Homo sapiens: one gene and its partners. The protein of the gene in region 4 interacts with the protein of the main gene of each other region in a pairwise test. Each region holds a gene or a part of one and is shown on either strand. Other genes may lie near its edges.

Region 1 (5,436 bases), on a different chromosome or scaffold from region 4:
TCGTGTGGCCACACCCACCCCAAGATAGACCGTGATTGCCTGGAGAAGAGGGTTCTGTTTTTGCTTCATGATGGATGTTTGTAGTAACGAAGATATAAAAGCTGACTTACTGAAACTTCACCAGATTGTATGAGAAAGAAAAATATGTGTTCAAACTGGGACCTAATTTGATAACCATAGTTTGTTAAAATTAAAAGTATTAATTTTCAAATTACAAAGTATTACATACAATAGAAAATACAAATAAAAAGGGCATTTAAAAACCCGCCCTGTAATCAGTATTACCACTTTGGTATATATTTTTCTAAACTCTTGAATGCATGGATATGTGAATTAGTCAAAACTGAATACGCTAGTCACACTTTGTATGTTCTCTGAGGGGCTGAATGTTTTGGTTGTTTTCCATTTTTTTTTTTATTGTGGTTGTCCTTTTTTTCTTTTAGTTAGAAATATACTGTGCCCATCTTTTCTAGGAAATAGAAAACGGTCAAGTTAAGTGTATATTTTTTTCAAACTAAACCTGGCTCCGAGCTTTGCACTGGGCATTGGAGAGGCCTTCAATGGCTCTTCCCCGGTCTGGCACTTCCTCTTCTTCCCTGACCCTCGAGTCATGGGCAGCAGTGGAGGGGCATGAACCCTCCTTCTGCAGCATCTGCCCCATCTCCTCCTGGGCCGAGTCATGCCTTGGGAGAGACAGCAAAACCCTGAACAGCAGTTCAAGGTCTTCTCAGCCTTGGGGTGATGCCTCCAGTGCCACTCCCTGAACTTGATCCCACTGCCAGGGCTGCCTGCATTCGCCCACTCCCTCAGCAGGGGTTTTTAGAGCATGAGTTTGAGCTAGGTTTTCTGCCAGCTGCTAAAGACCCAGATGGGACTCATTTTGTGCCTTCAAGGCGCTCAGAGTTAAGAGGCAGTGAGCTAGAGTAGAAGTTAATGGTGCAGTAAGGGTAAGTGCTGTGAGCTGCAGGGAGAACTGTGCCTGGAGTCCCAGGCGACACTCAGGTCTGCTCTCACATCGAAAGCACTGTCTATGCTCACCAGACTGTGAGCCGCTGAGGCCAGAGCCCTCCATTCATCTCTGCGTCCAGCACCCGACACCAACCCTGCCCATGGATGTTTGCCGGATGAGCCATCCGTTTGTTTTGTTTTGATTTGCACAAGTAATCCATGCTCATAGAAACTAGAAAATAGTAAAGAAAAAGATTAAATCTCCCTTACCCTGAGGCAACCACTGTTAACTGTTTTTCTAGGCATGTATGTATACATGCAGCCCCTTTATTAAAAAGTGAGTTATATATGATACATGTTGTCTTGTTAGCTGCTTTCATTCAGCAGGCTGTTGGGGCCAGCTTTCTATGTCAGGGATTATGGGCTTCCGTCATGATTTTCCTTTTGGCTACACAATAGCCCATTGTGTGGATGTGTTGGAATTTACTACCCTCAACTGTTAGATGATTAAATGTATGATTAATTCACACCATGCCATGTGATTATCCCATACTGTACTTTAGGTATGGTAATCTTCACCTGGGGATCTTCTGGTCACATAAAACAGTTTTTTCTCTGAGGAAATTAGAACTTTATACTTTTCTTTTTGTATTTTTATATTTTTTCTTAAGAAATGCTATTAAAAAATAAGTTGTTTCCTCAGACTGTTTAGCTGTAATTGTGAATAATTTGCCACCCTTTGTGGCAGAAGATGTTTGAAGGCCACTTGAAGGAAGAACTCGTGTCATAAAAACAACTGTAGTTATTCTTTACTATTCAGGTGTGTTTGTTTCCACAGGCACTGGGTGCAAGTTCCTGTGAAATATGCCACGAGGTGTTCAAATCAAAAAACGTGCGTGTGCTCAAATGTGGGCACAAGTATCACAAAGGGGTAAGAGCTCTTTTTGGCCATCCTTACAGCATGCATTGGGACCTTCAAATATTTTCAAAATAAGAAAGGAATTGTTTTCTAGTCATCAGTATTTATTGTGCTTTCAAACTATTTTCTTTGCAAACCTCCCGTGTCAGTGTTCAGTGCCTCCCTGTCCTCACACCAGCTCTGCAGGAAGGGCAGCTCTGGAGACCGTCCTTTCCATCCCTTGTGGGGAGAGGGGAACAGCAGCTCCAGCCACTCGTTAGTGCTGAGATTCAAAGCAGTATTAGTTCCTTGAAAGGTGATTTCTTACACACTTGACTAAATGGAGAAACAGTGAAACCATTTTTTTGACTTAGTGTAGTATATGAAGTCAGTTTAACATTTTAGAGGAGAAAAACTAAACCTAGCTGAGTCCCTTCTGCCTGACCCAGGGACAGTCCTGCTCGTACCGTTCTGGGATCTGTGTGTGAACTATCATGGTGTTCTAGGTACCGTGAGCATTTGTGTGCACCCCTGCTGCTGGGTTAGAACAGATCAGGTCTCTGCCATGGGGATTTGCTAATCCCTTGGAACGGGATAAATACAGCATGCTCACTGAAAGGAATTGAGACCACTTGCCAAGTCTCTGGTGTGGTGTGCCTCCTTGGGTACAGGGTCTTATATTTGGGCTAGCTGACTGTCCACAGCCTCTGCAGTGTGGGCAGCAGCAGCAGGAGTGTGGCGTGCAGGCTGGAGGGCTGTTCCAGAGCCAAGGGCCAAGGCCAGGCCAAGGGATGGGCTAAGAATGAGTGATTGGGTCATAGGGCCGAGAATGCCAGGCTCTGGAATTTGGCGCAGCTGAAGTGGAAGAGCCGAGCCTGGAACCGGGGATCAGGGCAAGACCACCCCCTGAGGCCAGGTTGGAGGCCCAGAGCGCTCAGGATCTGACCCTGAGGTGGGATCGTTTGCGGCTGGGGCTTTGTCCACACTCTGGCCTGAGCGGGTGTTGGTGTCCCTGAGTATTGGGCAGCTCCAGGCCCAAGAGACCAAGGGCAAGTGAGCCACGCCTGCCAAGGAGCCCAGCAGCACAGGGGAGCTAAGCTTCCTCATGGTCCTGAAGGCATCTTCTGATTTTGTTTTCTCCTTTTCAGTGCTTTAAGCAGTGGCTTAAAGGGCAGAGCGCTTGCCCGGCCTGCCAGGGTCGTGATCTCCTGACAGAAGAGTCACCTTCTGGAAGAGGCTGGCCCAGTCAGAATCAGGAGCTGCCTTCCTGCTCTTCTAGGTAGTCACACTTCACTAAAGTGTCATCCACCAGTGTGTTGAATCCGAAGAATGACAATTTTCTACCACTGGTGTAAAAAACAAACATTTGAAGACCCTTGTGCATTGTGTGTCACAAAGCTAAATACATGGAAATCGTTAATATCGCTGATATTAAGTAATTTCCCCACTCTGAGTGAATACTTTGATGATTGCCAACAGTGGCTAATAAAATGACGGCTACCACACTCATGGGTCACTGGGGCTGCGCAGGGCTCTTTGAGGTGGGTGGCTTCTTTTGGAAAGTACTATGAACGTCTCGAAGCAGTATTCTAGTGATAAGAATTCTTAACATAGCCAAGCGCCCCACGTTTGTTCCCCACGTTTGTTCCCCTTTTCTGTTTGAAAAACCTGTTCTGGTAGCTCCACAAGAGAGATGATACTGACTTTTTAAATTTTTTACAAGAGTCTGTATTCCTGATATGCCTATATTTTTCCTCAAAGATTCTGCATTTTAAGGATGGGCATAAGCAAACTATATTTTAATAATTTATAGTTAATGTTAAAATATTGGCTGATTTAGACCAAAAGATTCAAATCTCCTCTTTGTGAAATCCCATCTGCATTTGATTTTTTATTATTTTATGTTCCCCCGTTAGATTGTTTTAAGTGTTTGCTTTTCATCTTTTATAGATGTAATCTGATTTTCAAAAATCATTAACACTTTTTAATTAGTATCGACTAAGACTTTTTCCCCCTGGAATCGAGGCTGTGTGTCCGTCATCCCAGCCCCCGGTTGGAGCCTGCTCTTTGAACTCCGCTGCCTTCCTTAGCAGCTTCTGTCCTCTTCTGTGAGTCAGTCAGCGAGTGCTTGGGATCCGCATCCAGCCGTGCTGAGCACACAACAGGCTGTGTGTGGAAATGGCCACCACCATTCTCCTTCCCCACCCCACCACAAAAAGAGAAGCTGTGTCTTTAGACAACCCTGAGGTATCTGTGTTACAATCGTTCTGTGTTTGATATTTGTGTAAAGTATGCATGCAGTCTTGTACTGTGACCTAAGAACAAAACTGTAACTGCATTAGAAACCATGAAAAAATTAGATATTGTTTTGTGACTTTTAGACAGTGGTAAATATAGAACCATGAATTCTGGTCACATTCCATTTCTCTCCAACATGAAGGATCAAAAAATGTTTTTCAATGTGTTCTTTGTTCCACTGGAAACTTAGAGTCATGAGTTTATGAGCTGATTTGGTCACCTTCCTCTGCCTTTGTTCACTGTGAGTTCTGATGTCTTAGTGACTTAGTTCTTAGAAGCTCACGCCTTAGTTTGAAACAGATTCTCCACGGTGGTCCCCAAAACACTGTCTGCATATCCATAAGAATTGAGCGCTATGGGTGTTAACGTGCATGAGGATCAGTTTGCAGCAGCAAGTACAAAAGGAGAAGAGGAACATCCGTTGAATGAGTGTGTTTTGTACATAACTTCAGATACTTGTGAACATGCCTTATATTTGTCCAACAACTGTCAGAATAAAGAACATTCTAAAATGAGAAGTTCACTGTCACTCTTGTCCATTCTTTCTTAGAGAAGTTTAAAAATGCATTCTTCTGGAAAACTTAGGACATGTATGTCATGCTAACATTTTAAGAGTGCTTTCGTCAGGAAAGAACAGCCACGCCATGCTGTGTCTGAGGAGTCTGACCAGGGATCTCAGGGCGTTTTAGGGCCTGGGTCAGAATTTTCCTTTGTGCCTGCGTAAGATCGACTATAGGAGTTCACACAGAGATGATAGAGTTTACTTCTTAAGGCTAAATTAAGAGATTTTTCATGTGAATACATATAAGGATGTTGAAGATAAATTGCATTCCTTGGTATATTTTTTGAGGCATTTGTGGATTTATGGGCCACTGAGGCTGTCGATGGGGTTTCCTCTATAGAGGGGCTTCTGGGTATGCTGAGCACTCACAGAGTGAAAGCTCATTTGAAGAAAGCTCATTTTCAAAATCTGTCTTCTGTTTTTTCAAGTGTATTCAAAGTATTATCAGTACGTATTTTTAGTCTGATGGCATTTAATTTAATTTAAAGCAATGACTATTCCTTAAGAATTTAGGCCGGCCGCGGTGGCTAACGCCTGTAATCCCAGCACTTTGGGAGGCCGAGGTGGGCGGATCACGAGGTCAGGAGATTGAGATCATCCTGGCTAACACAGTGAAACCCCGTCTCTACTAAATACAAAAAACTAGCCGGGCATCGTGGTGTGTGCCTGTAGTCCCAGCTACTTGGGAAGCTGAGGCAGGAGAATGGCGTGAATCCGGGAGGCGGAGCTT
Region 2 (4,629 bases), on a different chromosome or scaffold from region 4:
GGATGGGGAGAGGCAGCCCTGGGTCATGCTCGAGGTGGGGGCACCGGGGGTGTCAGCAGCCCCTCCAGGGGTCTCTGGGACACTTCCCTGGCGGCAGAGACCTTCCCTGGCCGCCCAGGATCCGCACCTCCACCGGGCCTCCTCCTCCAGGCAGCCCTCCTTGACCACATTCCTAAGCCCGTGGGCGCCGTTCCCAGGTAGCCGGCAGGTGGCAGCACAGGCCGTGGGAGGCTCCGCTCCAGCCCCGCCCTATGCCGCGCGACCCTCGGGGCGCCGAGCCTCCTTGGCGGGGCCCGGGAGCAGGCAGCACACTTCACCCACCCGCACATCGATCCCCGCCCGCCCCCGGCGCCAAGCCAGCCCCTGGGTGACCCCGGCTCCCTCCGAGGCCGCGGCGTACCTGCGAGAACTGCGCGAAGGTGCGGTCGGCCAGCATGGGCACGTGCCCCAGCAGCTCGTGGCAGCAGTCCCTGCGCGTAGGAGGGAGAAGGGGGCTGAGGGGCCGCCCGTCGCACCCCCCACCCTCGGGCTGGCGGCCAGGGCGCGCACTCACGGCTCAGGGGAGTGCATGGGCGAGGACGCGTGGCGGATATACTGGGTGCACTGGAACACGCGGAAGGCCAGGCTGGCCAGGAAGTCCCGGGCGGACAGCAGGCCGGCCACAGGCCGCAGCTGGAAGCCCGTGCGCTCTGCAAGGGGCCACGCGGGTCACTGCCGAGCCGGGACGGGCTGGAGCCGCGCTGGGGTGGGGCGCTTGGCTGACCATCCCCGGCCCCCCGGCTCTGCGCCCCTCCCGTCTGGGCACACCCTTCAGGAAGCGGGAGACGTCCTCCAGCTGGGGGATATTGTCTTCCCGGTAGCCGCTGAAGCGCTCCAGCAAAGCAAAGGCCTCCAGGTGCTCCCCGCAGGCGTGCGTGGCGTAGAGGCCCTTCAGCGTGGTGTAGACCTCCTTCCTGCGGGCAGCCAGGCTCAGGGCCCTCTAATGCCCCACCCCAGTGCCCGAAACCCCCCTCCTGAACTGTGGGTGCCTCTGCCTGCCTGAGCCCCTACCAACGCAGGCCTCTTGGGGACCCCTGAAGACCCAGGCCCCCGGGAGGGGCTTTTGCTGGTGGCTTTAGGGAATCCCAGGGGATAGGGGGCCATGAGGGGCGGTCCCTCAGCACACTGGGGATGGCCCGACAGGATGGGTAGCCTCTTCCTCCCAACCCAACATTCTGAGCCCTGCAAGTCCCTCTTCTTCCCGGCCTTAGTCTCTCCTGTTGTGCCAAGGTCCCTGGAGGCGGCCCTCACACGCCAGGATTCCAGGAGGCATCCCCCGGGCTCCTCCCCAGCCCCTAGCTGCACGGAGGTCTCACCAGGTGGCAATCTCCTCGGCGGTGTACTCCACACGGGGAATCGGGTCGCCGCTGGGGAGGGGGCCAGTGGTCAGCAGGTCCCCTCGGGGAGTGAGAAGGGCAGGAGGGAGGGAGGGAGCTTCACTGGGCACAGGTCCACACCCGCCTAGTGCAGCGAGGCCTTTGGGTTGGAGGATGGACAGGAGGGTGCACCCCAGCTGACTGTGCCGTGAGCCGGCTATGTGGCCTCGGCAGGTTGCTCTAGCCCCCCTGGGCCTCAGTTTCCCCACTGGGATTTGGGGACATGGAAAGCCCTGGAGCAGAGCTGCCTGGCAGGAGGCACTGATGCTGGTGACAAGATGGGTCCTCCCCTTTGTCCTTCCCTCCCACCCCCCAGGTCCAGCGTCAGCCTGCAGGACGGAGTCTGGGTCCCGAGCGCAGGGGCCCCTCACTGCCTGTACTGGAAGGCGATCTCAGCAATCAGCTTCCTGCGCTGGCGGTACACCTGGTCCGAGAAGCCCTGAGGGCAGAGGGGATGCACGGGTCAGGAGGCTGTGCTGGGGTGGGGGCACAGGCCACGGAGGCTCCTGGAGCCGACAGACTCCTGTCCAGGGTTGGGCTAAGGGTAGGGGATGTGATCAGGGGCAGGAGGCCTGAGTGAGGGGCGCACCACTCACCGGGTGGTCCAAGTCCAGGTCAGGGTCGAACTTGGTGACCAGGTGATGACACTTGTCCAGCTCTGACACTTTTCTTGGGAACCAGGGGACTTTATGGGTGATGGAGGAAGAGATCTTGGTGAGCTCGGAGCCGTGGGGCTGTGTCACCCACCTTGAAGCAGCCTCCCCTACAAGACTTCCGGGGGGCAGAGGCAGCCGGGGCTGTGAGAGCTGCGGGGGGATCCTGGAGTGGCCCCAGGCCCGGACACGGATGTGTAGCAAAACGGGGTGCGGAGTGGAGCCCGCAGAGAGGGAACCAGGCCACCACCACGTGGTCACTGTAGGGTCCCCCTGCAGGAGCCCCTGCACCCCAGCCTCTCAAGGTCATTTGGTGGCCCTCAAGGACAGAAAACCGCCTCACCCTTGGGCCCCGCGGGGCTGCGCACGTCCTCTGACACCTGGCGCACACCACTGAGCAGGGCGGCCAGGTCCCCTCGGCGCACCTCGAGGCGCACGAAGTACTCCAGGTGGGGGCCCCCAGCTCGCGGCCTCTGGGCGGGCCGGGTCTCTAGATGGTGGATTTTGGCTTCAAACGTCTTAGGGAGCAAAAGCAGGAAGAGAGAGAGAAGGAGAAAGAGACAGAGATGGAGAGAGAGGGTGGGGTGGGCGGGGAGGAGGCACATCTGGCTGGCTGGCCAGGCCCTGCCCTTGACTTTTGTGCTAGCAGCACACAGATCCCGTTCTTCCAGGCTCAGGTCAGCTGTCGGCCACCAGGCCAGGGTTTGCCACTGGCAAGTTGGATTTTGTGTTACGTGCCTAACCAGGAGTTGTCACCGCTTGAGGCTTAACCTGGTTCTGGGCGGCTCGGTGTGTGTGTCCCAAGGCCATGCCACACAGTCCGGCTCCTCAGCCACTGGTCAGAAGGTGCCCCCAACCCTGGTGGCCTCATCCAGGTTTGTAGGATGGGCCCTGAGTCTCACTGGCCCCTGAGCGTCCAGGACACTGGCCAGAAGGGTCCGCTCCACCCCCACCTCCTGTTGCCTAGCAACAAGGGCGGTGGGTCGCAGTGGCCCTCGGGCCACAAAACTGGCTCTGGGAGCTGGGGGGCGGGGAGTCTGGCTTTAATGTCATTTGGGAGCTTCTTCCGGGAGCTGGGTCACCTGCCTCCCGGGGCACAGTGGGGCCGGAGTGACTAATGCAATCAGTGGTCACCTGAGCCACTGTGCTGGGTGGGTGGGAGAGGGCACACTGCCCTGCCCCTGCCTCTTGTGCTGCCCTGCTGGGAGCCCCCCACGTGGGAAATGGTGGGTGAGGGGGATCCAGGGGATGGGCAAGGCAAGAGGCACAGTGGGGCTTGGTAGCCTCAGCCCTAGGGGTGGGCTCAGGATCCCTCAAAAACACGGGGGTGTGGCTAGATGCCATGGGGGCTGAGCTGAGGCCTGAGACTCCCCTGCTGCATCCTGTGCCGGCCTCGGGGGCCTGGGCAGCTGCACCTCTGCTATAGAGGGGTCAGGAACTCAGCCCACACAGCCCCACCCACAGGTGAACTTGCCCCAGGGACACGAAGGCCACCAGCTCACCTCAAACACCTTCACAGCTCGGGACAGCGCCGAGGGCTTGGTGGCCCTCGGGGAGAAGAGCAGGTTTAGCACGGCCTTCCCCTCCTTCTCCTCAAAGGCCACAGCCTCCAGGGGGTCCCCGGGCTCCGAGGGGACTGCAGCGGCCGCTGCTGCCACCGCCGCCTCCCGCTCCTTGCGGGCGTCCTCGATGAGGCTCTGCCTGCGCCCAATGAACCGCGGGGACTGTGGGGACAAGGGGCACCCATGCCTCCTCCACCTGCTGAGACCCGGGGACCTCCACCCACAGCTGGTCCCACAGTCGGGCAGCGCTGATGGCACACAGAGGCAGGGGATGAGAGCACGTTTTTGAGCGCCTACTGTGTGCCTGCTGGGGCAGATGCTAGCCGAGGTGCCTGCGGGCATTGCACGCCCTTCCCGATGGGGGCAGCCCAGTCAGAAGCAGTGGTGGTGGGGGAGGAGTGGGGGCTGGGAAGGTGCTCGCCTGCTCCCCACTCTGTGGCGAGCAGACAGACAGAGACGCTGTGTCACTCATCCCCAGGCCAGGCGCTAACTGGATTAGTGATGGGAAGAGGGCGATGTCTTGATGGACAGTGGCATCGGCTGCCGGGGAGGGAACGGCAGCTCAGGAAGGAGCTGCCCCCACAGGGCCCCAGTGAACAACCCCCCTACCCTCCTGGCTGCCGCACAGGGGACCCTTTCTCACACTCCCATCAGGACACCTGTCCTCGGGCCCTGCCCCTCTGTGCCACCCCGCAGGCGCCCGCTCCTGGCTGCCTTGTCATCCCTCCACCCTTTGTCATAGCTCTGGGCGCAGGTGTCTCTCCCTGGGCTCAGCGCCTCTGACCCCTCGATCCCAGAGCCGTCCCAGGCCTGGACAGAGGGGGACTTGGCAGACACCTGGGGCTCATCCCTTGGAGCTGAACTCCCAAGAAGGCTCTGGGCCCCTTGTAAGAGAAGAATCAGCTTCATCCTGAGCTTCCAGGGTTGTGGAACATGAAGGGGAGCAGCAGAAGCCCCTCCCAGAGTCCCCTCTTACTTACCCTTGGGGTGGGGGTGTAG
Region 3 (5,436 bases), on a different chromosome or scaffold from region 4:
GCAGGTGCCCGATACAGATCGGTTTCTTTCCTTTTCCTGTCTGGTTCCAACTCCAATGCTGAAATACCTCACAGGCACACTCAAGAGATGCTTAAAGCACTAGCAAAGTAGAGGCATCAAAAATTGTGTTTTGAAAGCACATTTTATTTCAGAAAAGTCACTAAAGTAGTCAACATGGGAAAAATCCAAATTTGGCAGACTTCCTTAAACTTATTTTACTGTTTCTCCTTTGAAATGCCTGTGTAGCCCTTGGTGGGGTGAGGCAGGGCGGGGCAGTGGTGGGAGGACCTGATTATTTTAGTGTCAGGGCCTACAGGGCTTAGAGTCCTAATCAGCCCAGGGCTGGATGTATGCAAAGAGGGAAGAAGACAAGGGGAGCCCCTTGCTGCCCTGATTTCGATGGGTGGGGAAGCCTCCTGAAGACACCCCTGCTGAGTGCACAATTTGGACATCTGGGAGAGTCATACATGGGCGAATCCCAGAGATGGAGAGAAAGTGCAGCCTCAGCCACACGGATGCAAATGTGCCAGCTTCCCCCAGGCAGCTGGGAGCTTCATGGTCTCCACCAGAACATCCCTCACTCTGGGTCCAGGGTTGGCATGGGTGAGGAGCTGATGGGGCCAAGAGGAGGCTGTCATTTTCAGTTCCTGGGAGTTGGGAAACTAGCTGTAACTGCTCAGCCTCTTCCTGGGGCTCAGAGGCTTGCTTGTCCTGGATATGCCCTCCAGCTGCAGGCAGGAGCCCAGGTGGTGGAGTGCCTCGCAATCAGATCCACTTCAAGTCCTTGCTTACTAATCACTAGCCAATCAAGAACCTCCCTGCATCTACGTTTCCTACTCTGCAAAGTGAGAATAATAATGAAACCATTACAGGACTCCTACAAAAATAAAAAGATTACTTTTTTGGGGGATCCCCACCAACAGAGAGGTCCTACTAGACCCCCTGGAAAAGGCATTTGACTTTCATTCCCCAGGCCCTACCTGTGTCTGTTTAGACTCCTACTTTAGTCACATTTTCTGGCTTCAAATCCCACACAAAGGCTCTGTATGTAAACCAGGCTGCCATCCTGCTCTGGGATTCTGAACATTATCAGTGAAATCCATTATGCAGGCAAGTCTCTAGTTGCAGTCCACATGGCTCTGTCCTGCACCCTGTTCTGGCCCATGTTCTTAGAAGCAACTTAGATAAAGACCTAGAATGCCTCCTTATCATTTCTTCAGGTAGCAGAAAACTTGGAGGTACAGCTAAGATGATGGCTGGTGGAGTCAAGATTCAGGATCTCTGTTGGCTGGAATAACATTTAAAATGAGTAAACTAAAACTTAATGGGCGTACATCATCCTGCACTTCTTTGTTGTTAAAAAGAAAGAGAGAGAAAGAAAAACAGACAAGCTTGATTGCAGAAATGCAAATCTGGAAATCTGACTTCTTAACAATTTATATGAGATGACCAGGGCTGGGGTTCGGATGTCAGGCCTAACACTTGAGCTGTGTGATTGTGGGCAAACCACTCACCTTCTCTGGATTCTATTTTCTTATTTGTAAAATGAGGCTTAAATCAGAAGTCTTAGCAAAAGCCTCTTCTGGCTTGATATATAATTTTGTGTAATACAATACACATAGTTCCATAATCTGTACTTTAGGCCAGTATTCCTCAGACTCCAGTGGGCATATAAACCATCTGGTGATCTTGTTAAAATGCAGGTTCTGACTGGGTAGGTCTCACTGAGTTGAGGTTTTTTTTTTTTTTCCAAGATGGAGTCTCGCTCTGTCGCCCAGGCTGGAGTGCAGTGGCGCGATCTCGGCTCACTGCAAGCTCCACCTCCTGGGTTCACGCCATTCTCCTGCCTCAACCTCCCGAGTAGCTGGGACTACACGCGCCCGCCACCACGCCTGGCTAATTTTTTTGTATTTTTAGTAGAGACGGGGTTTCACCGTGTTAGCCGGGATGGTCTCTATCTCCTGACCTCATGATCCGCCAGCCTCGGCCTCCCAAAGTGCTGGGATTACAGGCGTGAGCCACCGCGCCTGGCCGGGACTCTGTATTTCTAACAAGCTCCCAACTGATGCTGAGGCTGTTGGTTGGAGGAGCACACTTTAAGTGGAGTAGACCCAGATAGTAACAATTTACCTTTAGCGCATTCTGAGTGCTGACCGCTGCATCTTACATGCATGACTGCATTTAATCCTCATAACAACCTGGGAGGGAATTATCAACAATACTTTCATTTTCTAGATTATGTAGAGATGAAAGTTCACAGAAGCGAGGTAACCTGCTCAATGTCACACAGCTAATGAGTTGCAGAGCCAGGATTTGAATTCTAGGTCTGCCTAACCAGGAGTGTATGCTCATAACAACCGTATAACATACGCAGGTGATTTGGGCCAACATGTGGCTAAGGAGAGAAAGGAGATGAGCAGTAAGGTACTTGCAAATGTACTAGCAAGTTCTTGTGTTTTTTTCTTAGCAGTGATAACCACTTGTAAACCGACTGATCTCCTTGCCCACCTGGACCGTGTGAAAACTCTGATCCTGGTCCCTGGTTCTGAACGTTTGCAATTCTAACATACTTGGAAGATATTTAAACACTCTATCTTCACTGACAGGCAATGATGGCTATAACAAAGAGAGAAAATTTTAGTTCACATAAATGATTAGAGCAGAGGAGAGATGTTTAATCCTATTAATGAATTTGCTAATTGGCCTTCTGCCCCCAATCATTTCATATTCAGGCTTCCACAGTGTCAGATGAAATGGAAACAGATCTAGGGGGAGGCGGGGTTGGGATGGGGCTAAAAGCATTTTGCTCAGGGCCTGCACGTAGCTCAGTTGTTCCGTGTGGCTAATGAGGTGCTTCAGTCTATCCTTGAATGCCTTCTCCCCAACATCCATGCACCCGTTTTGACTGTTTTTCTACTCAGGTCCCTAAGGTTCCAGAGGCAAAGCCAGGAGGAGAGGAGGTTAGTATGGCAGTTAGAAGCTCAGGGTCTGGGATCAACCAGAACCAGGCTCTGCGATTCCCAAGCTCTATGACCCTTAGTAAGGCACTTCCCTTTTTAGAGCCTCAGGTTCCTCAACTGCAAAATGAGAACTGTAATAGCATCTTGTCCTCCAGGGTTGGGGTTAATAAAATAACACAGGAAAGAGCCGAGCAAGGTGCCTGGCACTGGGTGGAGGCCAGAGTCATTTGAGCTAGTATTATTATCCTTCCTGGCGGGTGACCTGCATTTTCATACCTCACTGTTGGGAATTGCTTTTACCATCTAAAGTTGACAGCTTCCCTTAGGAATCACCAGAGAAACTGCTTAGAATGCCAGTGACCATGGATATGGTGGCTCGGGATCTCAGAGGGCTGGAATCAGAGGCCACAGCTCAAAGGGATGGGGAGATTACCAAGGGTAACACCGTCATCATCCAAGTGGAGCAAGGCAGAAGGAAGGGGCCTGTCCTGAGATGGGACAAAAGGCAGCAGCAAAGCCAGCACTGCCAACTCACCTGGTGTGCAGCACCATGTTCAATTCCTTCTTGGCCCTCACGTGGCCCTATAGGGAGACACTGTCATTGTCCCCATTTTTTAATTTTTATTTTTTTTGAGACGGAGTCTCGCTCTGTCATCCAGGCTGGAGTGCAATGGTGCAGTCTTGGCTCACTGCAACCTCCGTCTCCTCGGTTCAAGCGATTCTCCTGCCTCAGCCTCCTGAGTGACTGGGATTACAGGAGCATGCCACCATGCCCGGCTAATTTTTGTATTTTTAGTAGAGATGGGGTTTCACCATATTGGCCAGGCTGGTCTTGAACTCCTGACCTCGTGATCTGTCCACCTTGACCTTCCAAACTGCTGGGATTACAGATGTGAGCCACCATACCTGGCCCACTGTCCCCATTTTATAGAAGAGGAAACTGAGGCCTGGAAAGGCTCAGCTATGAACCAATGAAAGGGAGTTCAATCCCAAGACTCTTATTTTAACGCGGTGCTCATAGCCATAATGCAATCCTACTTCTAGCTTCCTGATTTGAGTGGAATGTGGTTCCTACTTCCCCCCACCGCACCAATGAGGCTTTTAGTCTGGCCTTGAATAACAAGATTTAATCCAAAGTACTACTCCCATGGCTGGGGTACGGGAAGCTAGCAATATCCCAACTGACTACCACTACTTCCAGAAGGTGACCTATTTAAAATACTACCCGGAGGAAGGGGAAGCATTTAAAGAGATGTTTCTCTGAAGGCCCTAGGACTCTTAGGCTCTCTCTCTCTTTTCTAAAAACTGTTCCTTCCCTGCCTGATGAATGGGAACATCAGCTCCACGGCCATTATGCAGAATTTTGCAGAGCTTCTCCCCAGGAGCAGACCTGGATTCCTCATCTGCACCGCCGCATTCTCACACCGCTCAGAGCCATCAAGAACGCACACTCTGGCCCATCCATCCTTACCTCCATGCCGCCAGCATCCATCAAGCCTGGATGCAGTGTCAGGCCTGACAGAGGCCCTGGGATAAGACTCAGTGCCTGAAAGCTAGTCAGAGAGATAAATGTGTAAACCCATAATGACAACCTCATAGTGTGTTCAGAATTGTAGTTAAGGGAAGCAGCAGCAGCTATGGGGAAAGAGAGAAGGCAGAGATGTGCTCTGCCTACAGAAGCCAGGAAAGGCTTCCCAGAGCGGTGGCATTGAATGAGGCCTTGAAAGATAAGTAGGAGTTGGCCAGGTGAATGAGGAGATGGAGGAAGAGGGAGGATGAGGAAGCCAGAGTGGATCTTAGGCAGGGAAGCAATGCTGAAGGACAATTGTGGGACTGGCTAAGTGAACAAATAAATGAGTGGATAAATATACAGATTCTGATCTCACCCAGGCAAGGGTGAACGAACCTGAAATATAAGGGAAGACAAGGGGAATCACTGTGAGTCAGTCCCTGCTTTTGTTTCAGCAAAAGAGTGAAAACTTAGAGACATCTCCTCACCTTCTCCAAAGACACTATACACCTACCAGTATCCAAAAAATTACCAGGACTCTTCTTGACTGAATTTATATTTTTCAACTTTGGGGAGATGACTATCAATGCTCTTTGTGAAAAGATAGGCTGTTAATTATAGCTGTTCTGGCACTTCATCATTCATTCATTTATGGACATATTCATTCATTCATGTGGTCATTTATTCGATCATTCTTTCTGTCATTCAGTTGATAATTCATTTGTTGCTTCATTCATTCACTCCTTTACTGCTTCCCCCATTCATTCAATCATTCATCTTTTCACTTATTTGTTAAAGCATATGCTCACTTATTCACTTACAGATTTACAAAGCATTCATGGAGCAAGGCCCTTCCAGGCAGACAAAGAGGTCTAAGCCTTGGCCCTTTTCCAGAGACCAAGTCAAAACAATCCCACTGATTTTAGGCAGTAAGTCCTTCTCCTCTGTCTTCCATTCTTTTCCATC
Region 4 (5,935 bases):
CTGTAATCCCAGCGCTTCGGCCTCTCGAGTTGAGAGAATTGCTTGAGACCAGGAATTTGAGATTAGCTTGGGAAACATAGCAAGACCACATCGCTACAAAAAAAAAAAAAAAAAAAAAAAAAAAAAAGGTTAGCAGGGCCTAGTGGCATGCACCTGTAGTCCCAGCTACTGGGAAGGCTGAGGTGGGAAAATCCCTTGAGCCCAGGAGTTCGAAGCTGTAGTGAGCTATCATCGTGCCACTGCACTCCAGCCTAGGTGACAGAGAGAGACCCTGCCTCCAAAACACTTGGGCAAGGATGGAGAGACTCCCCTCTCCCAGACCTAGAATGCTTGCTCCTCAGCCTCACTTCCCCTGTTTCTGTCCTCATGATGTCCCCAACCTGCCACCTCTGAGTCTCTGGCCCTATCTTTTTTTGTGTTTTTATTTATTTATTTATTTATTTATTTATTTATTTATTTATTTATTTTTTTGAGACGGAGTCTCGCTCTGTCGCCCAGGCTGGAGTGCAGTGGCGCAATCTCGGCTCACTGCAAGCTCCGCCTCCTAGGTTCACGCCATTCTCCTGCCTCAGCCTCCGAAGTAGCTGGGACTACAGGCGCCCACCACCACGCCTGGCTAATTTTTTGTATTTTTTAGTGGAGACGGGGTTTAACCGTGTTAGCCAGGATGGTCTCGATCTCCTGACCTCGTGGTCCGCCCGCCTCGGTCTCCCAAAGTGCTGGGAATACAGGCGTGAGCCACCGCGCCTGGCCAAATCTGATCTTCTCTTAAAGAGAGTTTGTGGAAGGCATCCTCTGTCTTCTGTATTACAATCTCACTGGTCAGAACTTGGTCTCATAGCAATTGTGAGCTACCAGGGAGTCTGGGATGGTGAATATTGTAGATTTCTAACTTCTTTAGTTGAGAAAGGCAAGGGAGAATGGGTTTGTCAATGGCTTCTGGAAACCTATTTGCAGGGTCTGCTGAAGAACAGAGCTCACCTTGCCAGTGGAGCCTTGATATGAGAGAGGGAATGGAAGGAGGTAAAAGTGGGGTATTATGCCAGGGAGAGCAATCCCACAGTGACCAAACAGCAGCTCCCTGCTGCAGGGCCCTCGGTGGCTTGGGTCAAAACAGCGTGGCCTCTACCGAGAGGCCCAGCCCTAAGACAGCTCCTTCTGGCAATCAGCTCTAACCAGCTGCTGCCAAAGAGGTAAACACATTCCAAGTCCTTGAGTCCCTGCTGCACTGTAACTGTGGTTAAAACACAACCCCGCCTCTACCAGTTTGGGCTAATGGAAAGTTCACTATAGTTGTGTTTTAATGATGATTTGCAATTATCCGTGCCCCCTCCCATTCATGGTGAGATGAATACCTAAACACTTATGTTGTCTAACCATATAAGTATTTTGCATCTCACGTGTATCATTTTAAGTTCATTTCATTCTCCAATCCTTGGGAACCATGAAGGATAACACATTACATTCTCTTTTTTTTTTTTTTTTCCTCTGGAAGATCATGCATTACATTCTCTTTTTTTCTCTGGAAGGGTGGCCCTTAAACCAAGCCATTTCCCTAAGCCCCTTTGGTGAGGTGGAGAAACAGACAACCACTAACACAGAACAACCACTGAACACCCAGAAAACTGTATACAGGTCATCACCCAGTGGGGGCACCATTTGCTTGCAGAGGGAGCTGGGGAAAATAGGAAACAGAGAAGATCAAATACTCCCCGTGAGGGTGTTGCCAATCCCAGAGAGGACAATTGCTCTTGACCAAAGCAATCTCTAGTTCAGTCAAGGAGACAGACCACAATCACATTTAAAAAAAAAAGAAAAAAAAAAACTAAAAGGAAATTTTAAAAGTATGAATAAGAGCTATTGTAAACTGCTCAAACTATGCATACAAGCAATGAAGTAAGATGAATTGACTGGCACTGAATTGGAAAAGCTATACAGAGGCAGGGAGTGTGGAACATAATTTAATAAAAATAAACTTAAAAAAATATATATACACTCCCAAAAAAGAAATGGAAAAGTTGTTAGGGCGTGGACCAGGACTCCTAATTAGCTGTTCTGTTGTGCCTGATTTCGCTCCTGTCTTGCCCAGCACCCCTTGGGACACACTGTCCAGTGCAGGGACACTTTGGGGAGGGACAGGGGATTCCTTGGCACCGGGACCTTCACCTCCGAGCCGGCCTCAGACCAGGCCATTTGCCCGTAGCCCAGAGGAGGAGCCGGGGAGAAACCCGCTGCCCAGGTGGCCACTTTTGCCTCTTTGACCCTTCCATGTTTCCAAAACAGAAGGGGCCCTGAGAACGCTCCCTGCCAAAGTGGGGAACAGCTACCCTCATTGTACGCCTCGCCCTGCCGGTGGCGCTCTCCCCCCGCCTGCGTTCGGTCTGAAAGTGTGAAAATTACAAATCCCAAGAAACTGCAATCAGAAGTCTACCTAGGGAAAATTCAGAGTAACCTTGCCATAAATATCCCGCTCCAAGACGCCTGACGTCAGAGCGGGGCGGGCGGACGGGCGCGAGGCCGGGCCTGGAGGGGCGGCAGCCGCGGCTTCCCGGGGATAGCGCGGAGCACGCAGCAGCGAGCGGAGCGCGGGCGGCGGCGCCGTACCTCGGGCTGCGGGAGCGCGGGCGCCCTGGGGTCCTCGGAGTAAGTGCGGCCGGCCCTGGCGCTCCCCGTCTTGGGGCCCGGGCCGCGGGGAGCCCTCTCCGCTGGGCTCCCACACTTCTCTCCCTCTGCTTTCTTTAGCATGCCCCGCGGGGCTTGGGGAGGCAGCAGCTCCGCAGGCTGGCGGTTTTGTTTCTCCAAAGTGTTTGCAGGAGCCGCCGACCCCGGAGTGGGCTCCCAGGGCCTGTGTGTGTGTGAGTTGTGTGTGTGTATGAGTGTGATTGCGTGTGTCTGTACTGGCACATCTGGACATAGGAAATGTCTTTGGAAAACTTTTTAAAAATGTTTTTTGCGGCTTTGAAACCTGACCCCTGGTTGTCACAAGTGGACAAACACAGAAGATACCCCGCAAAACTGACAACTTTTTGGTGGTGGCTTTTCCGGGTTCGGCTTGAACCTTCACTTGGCTGGGCTGAAGTCTTCACAAGCCCCCAGCTCCCACTTGCAGGCCTGGCCTCTGGCCAGTGGGCAGGGCAGCCGTAAGGTTCTTGTTCTCAGTGGCAGTGGGACCCTGGGCGGGGGAAGGAGCATCTCAGGAAAGGGGTCCCCGGACTCTGGGGCTCTCAGCACCTGCGGTCGCAAACCAACCTCATGCCCTGACTTTACCAGGCGTCGGGACTCTGACTTAACCGGGGAATGAGGGACTTGGTCTGGCGGCAGGTAATTTTGTGAAGAGGATGAGAAGGAAGAGGGGGAGGTGGTGGTGATGGCCAGGACGCTGTGGCCCTGTGTCCAGCCGTAGCTTGGGAGTGGGATGGTTGGTTCTGCCACATGGCCACGGTGAGGTACGTGCCAGGTTCTCCAGGAGTGCCGCGTGTGGTGCCCCAAACAAGATGCAAGCTCCTAACATAAAGAGACGTGTCTGAGCTGTGGGGTGGAGGAAGGGGGGCGGTGGGGGAGAGGGAGATTTTTATCAAAATTGAACACAGATTGCTGAGATCTGGGCTTGATTTAACTCTTCTCTCTCTGCCTCGGCCACTTCTCCACAGTTTTGGAGTGGATTTGGAACGTTTCTCGGAGGGTTAGAGGAAAATCACACCTCTCCGGAAAAGAGTCCCCATAGGTTTTCCCTTGATGCCCACGTGGGAATGAAAGCAGCTTCCCATCTTTAAAAAGTTCAAAGTCTTGTGTTTTCCCCCTTCTGAGTTTGGTGTTAGTTTCCTGAGTTTCTTTGCAAAGCCAGCTGAAGCGGGGGATGGATTTTCCCTAGGGCCTAGGGCGGAAAGTGTGCTCCACGGAGAGTAGGGGAAAAAAGCAGCAGTGAGGCTGTATCGATCCATCATCCCTGAGTAGCACAGTGCCAGGCACTGCCTGTCAATAGCTGGGTTCCACAAACGAGTGACCACAGACAGACTGAATTTTCAGCTTTGAGCTAGCCAGGTCTCTGGTTTTGTATTTTGCAGTAGAGCCAACCTACAATGTCTGGGTGGGAGGAAGATTACTGGACTCTCCCTCTGTCCTAGAAAAATGAGAAAATGAAGGGACAGGGAGGAAATCTGGATGTAAAAACAGACCCACAGGAAGTTAAGATTCAGGAAGGATTTTAGAAATTATATAAATTGAACCCCAGGGAAGCTCCATAAAAGATGGAGCAGGCAGCAATGTCAGAAACAGACTCATTTAACTTCAGGAGTACGTTGTCAACTGAAGTGTAATGAAGGAGGAGGAAATCATCCCATAGGCAATGTAAACAAGGGTGCATGTAAACAGGAGTGACTGGTCCCCATGAGATGCACATGCCTATGTGTTTTTACACATACATGACTGTGTGGTGATGGCCATGGCCTTAGACATGGGAGGATAAATGGTCTATTTCTTCATCTGTGCTGGGAACTCCATCTAACCCCCATTTCTTCCTTTATGCAAACAACTGTGCTATTATTGTCTTGCTCCCTGGTAGTTGCAAACTCTGGCTCCTAACTCCCAGCTGAGTTTTCAGAGCTTTTCCTCCAGCGCCTCGGATGCTGAGGGAATACTCGTGCCCCCATCAGGACAAAAAGAGGAGAGAACATTCTCCTGGGCATTAGAACTTAGAGAGTCAGGGGCTCAAGAAGGCGGAGGCTGTGCAGGCAAGACCAATAGGAAGGCCTGTAAATGATTTTGTTTTTGGTGAGCGTGGAGGAAGTTGAAATACTACTGCTTGCTGTGAGAACATGTTCTCTCCCCAGTCTTCTTTCCCGACTGTCTCCAAAGTTTTTGATGCAAAACAGATTAAACTCCCCATTACTAAAGAGCCTTGGATCCAGGTGTAAAGAATGAAGATAAAGGGTAAGTACAGGCAGTAGAGAAAGCATAGAGATAATGAAAGATGAGGCTTTCTTATTTGATTTTACTAGAGCCAATGGAAGTAACAAGTTTAAATGTTCTCATTCATTTCCATTATTTAAACATAGAAGACTACCCAGGGACAGAAGGGACCCCTCGGAACAGGATTCCCAGAAATACTCTTATCCCAGCATACAACTCCTCAGGGACAGGTGAGGGGCAAGAACTGGGTTTTCAACTCTTTCTACATGTGGGGTTTCTGGGAGTGCTGCATGTGGGATCAGTGGAGTCCTGATGCTTCTGGGCTTGTACTAGGAGACATTTCACTATGGCCGGGATGAATTCCCAGGCCATGGATGCCTAGGCTGACATTGAAGCCTTCTCATGGCTCATTCTATCAGTTCAATCTTCTGGCCAGCTCTTTGGTCATCTTTGAGATTAGATTAAGTAGATGGGATGCATTCCAAGACATCCTTGAAGGTCCAGAGGGCAAACACAGCTGGCAGAAAGAACAAGTTGAAGGATATCCTTGGCTTTGATAGCGGATGACCCTCTAGATCTCAACAGCCAGAGACTCTGTCAAGGATCCTGTGTCATTCAGCCCTAGACTTCAGAGGCAGCCCGACAACAATGGAAAGAGTGCAGATTTCTGATCAGCTGCCTGGAGAGAGAGAACTGTGACCTAAATACGAATTAGTAACCTGGGCTACATGACTTATTCCTTCTGAGCTTCAGCTTCCTCATCTGTAAAATAAGGATAGTATTTCCCTCCCCAGGTCATTATGAAAACATTTATGCACAAGAACTAAGAACAGAGCTCAGAATGTTATAAGACCCTTCATAAAGGGAGTGCTGTATTTTTATTTTTCAGTTTTTCAGCCATCACAAGCCAGTATTGCTTGGAAAGAACCTCTCCCCAAATCTAGCTACATATTTTCCATGATTGAAGGCTAGTGGGTGGAGTTTCTAGGGCTCTGATCATCCTTACTTCCTTCCTCTAGAAAAGGTG

The links.
Region 1: the proteins of DAAM2 (region 4) and TTC3 interact in a two-hybrid assay, tested with the Homo sapiens proteins (one large-scale study listed by BioGRID and IntAct).
Region 2: the proteins of DAAM2 (region 4) and TH interact in a two-hybrid assay, tested with the Homo sapiens proteins (one large-scale study listed by BioGRID).
Region 3: the proteins of DAAM2 (region 4) and KCNIP1 interact in a two-hybrid assay, tested with the Homo sapiens proteins (one large-scale study listed by BioGRID).

Annotation. Positions count from the first base shown.
Region 1 is NC_000021.9:37,198,446-37,203,881, forward strand, and holds the end of TTC3 (E3 ubiquitin-protein ligase TTC3), read left to right. Parts: intron 1-1,786; coding exon 1,787-1,879; intron 1,880-2,994; coding exon 2,995-3,129; 3' UTR 3,130-4,662; downstream 4,663-5,436. UniProt on the Homo sapiens protein: E3 ubiquitin-protein ligase which catalyzes the formation of 'Lys-48'-polyubiquitin chains. Mediates the ubiquitination and subsequent degradation of phosphorylated Akt (AKT1, AKT2 and AKT3) in the nucleus.
Region 2 is NC_000011.10:2,166,080-2,170,708, forward strand, and holds part of TH (tyrosine 3-monooxygenase), read right to left. Parts: coding exon of another isoform or gene 4,611-4,629; intron 3,793-4,610; coding exon 3,571-3,792; intron 2,587-3,570; coding exon 2,412-2,586; intron 2,101-2,411; coding exon 2,012-2,100; intron 1,855-2,011; coding exon 1,787-1,854; intron 1,407-1,786; coding exon 1,356-1,406; intron 954-1,355; coding exon 808-953; intron 690-807; coding exon 554-689; intron 471-553; coding exon 401-470; intron 1-400. UniProt on the Homo sapiens protein: Catalyzes the conversion of L-tyrosine to L-dihydroxyphenylalanine (L-Dopa), the rate-limiting step in the biosynthesis of catecholamines, dopamine, noradrenaline, and adrenaline. Uses tetrahydrobiopterin and molecular oxygen to convert tyrosine to L-Dopa.
Region 3 is NC_000005.10:170,509,365-170,514,800, reverse strand, and holds part of KCNIP1 (A-type potassium channel modulatory protein KCNIP1), read right to left. Parts: intron 1-5,436. UniProt on the Homo sapiens protein: Regulatory subunit of Kv4/D (Shal)-type voltage-gated rapidly inactivating A-type potassium channels. Regulates channel density, inactivation kinetics and rate of recovery from inactivation in a calcium-dependent and isoform-specific manner.
Region 4 is NC_000006.12:39,789,823-39,795,757, forward strand, and holds the start of DAAM2 (disheveled-associated activator of morphogenesis 2), read left to right. Parts: upstream 1-2,553; 5' UTR 2,554-2,643; exon of another isoform or gene 2,644-4,916; coding exon of another isoform or gene 4,917-4,929; intron 4,930-4,950; exon of another isoform or gene 4,951-4,969; coding exon of another isoform or gene 4,970-5,138; intron 5,139-5,935. UniProt on the Homo sapiens protein: Key regulator of the Wnt signaling pathway, which is required for various processes during development, such as dorsal patterning, determination of left/right symmetry or myelination in the central nervous system.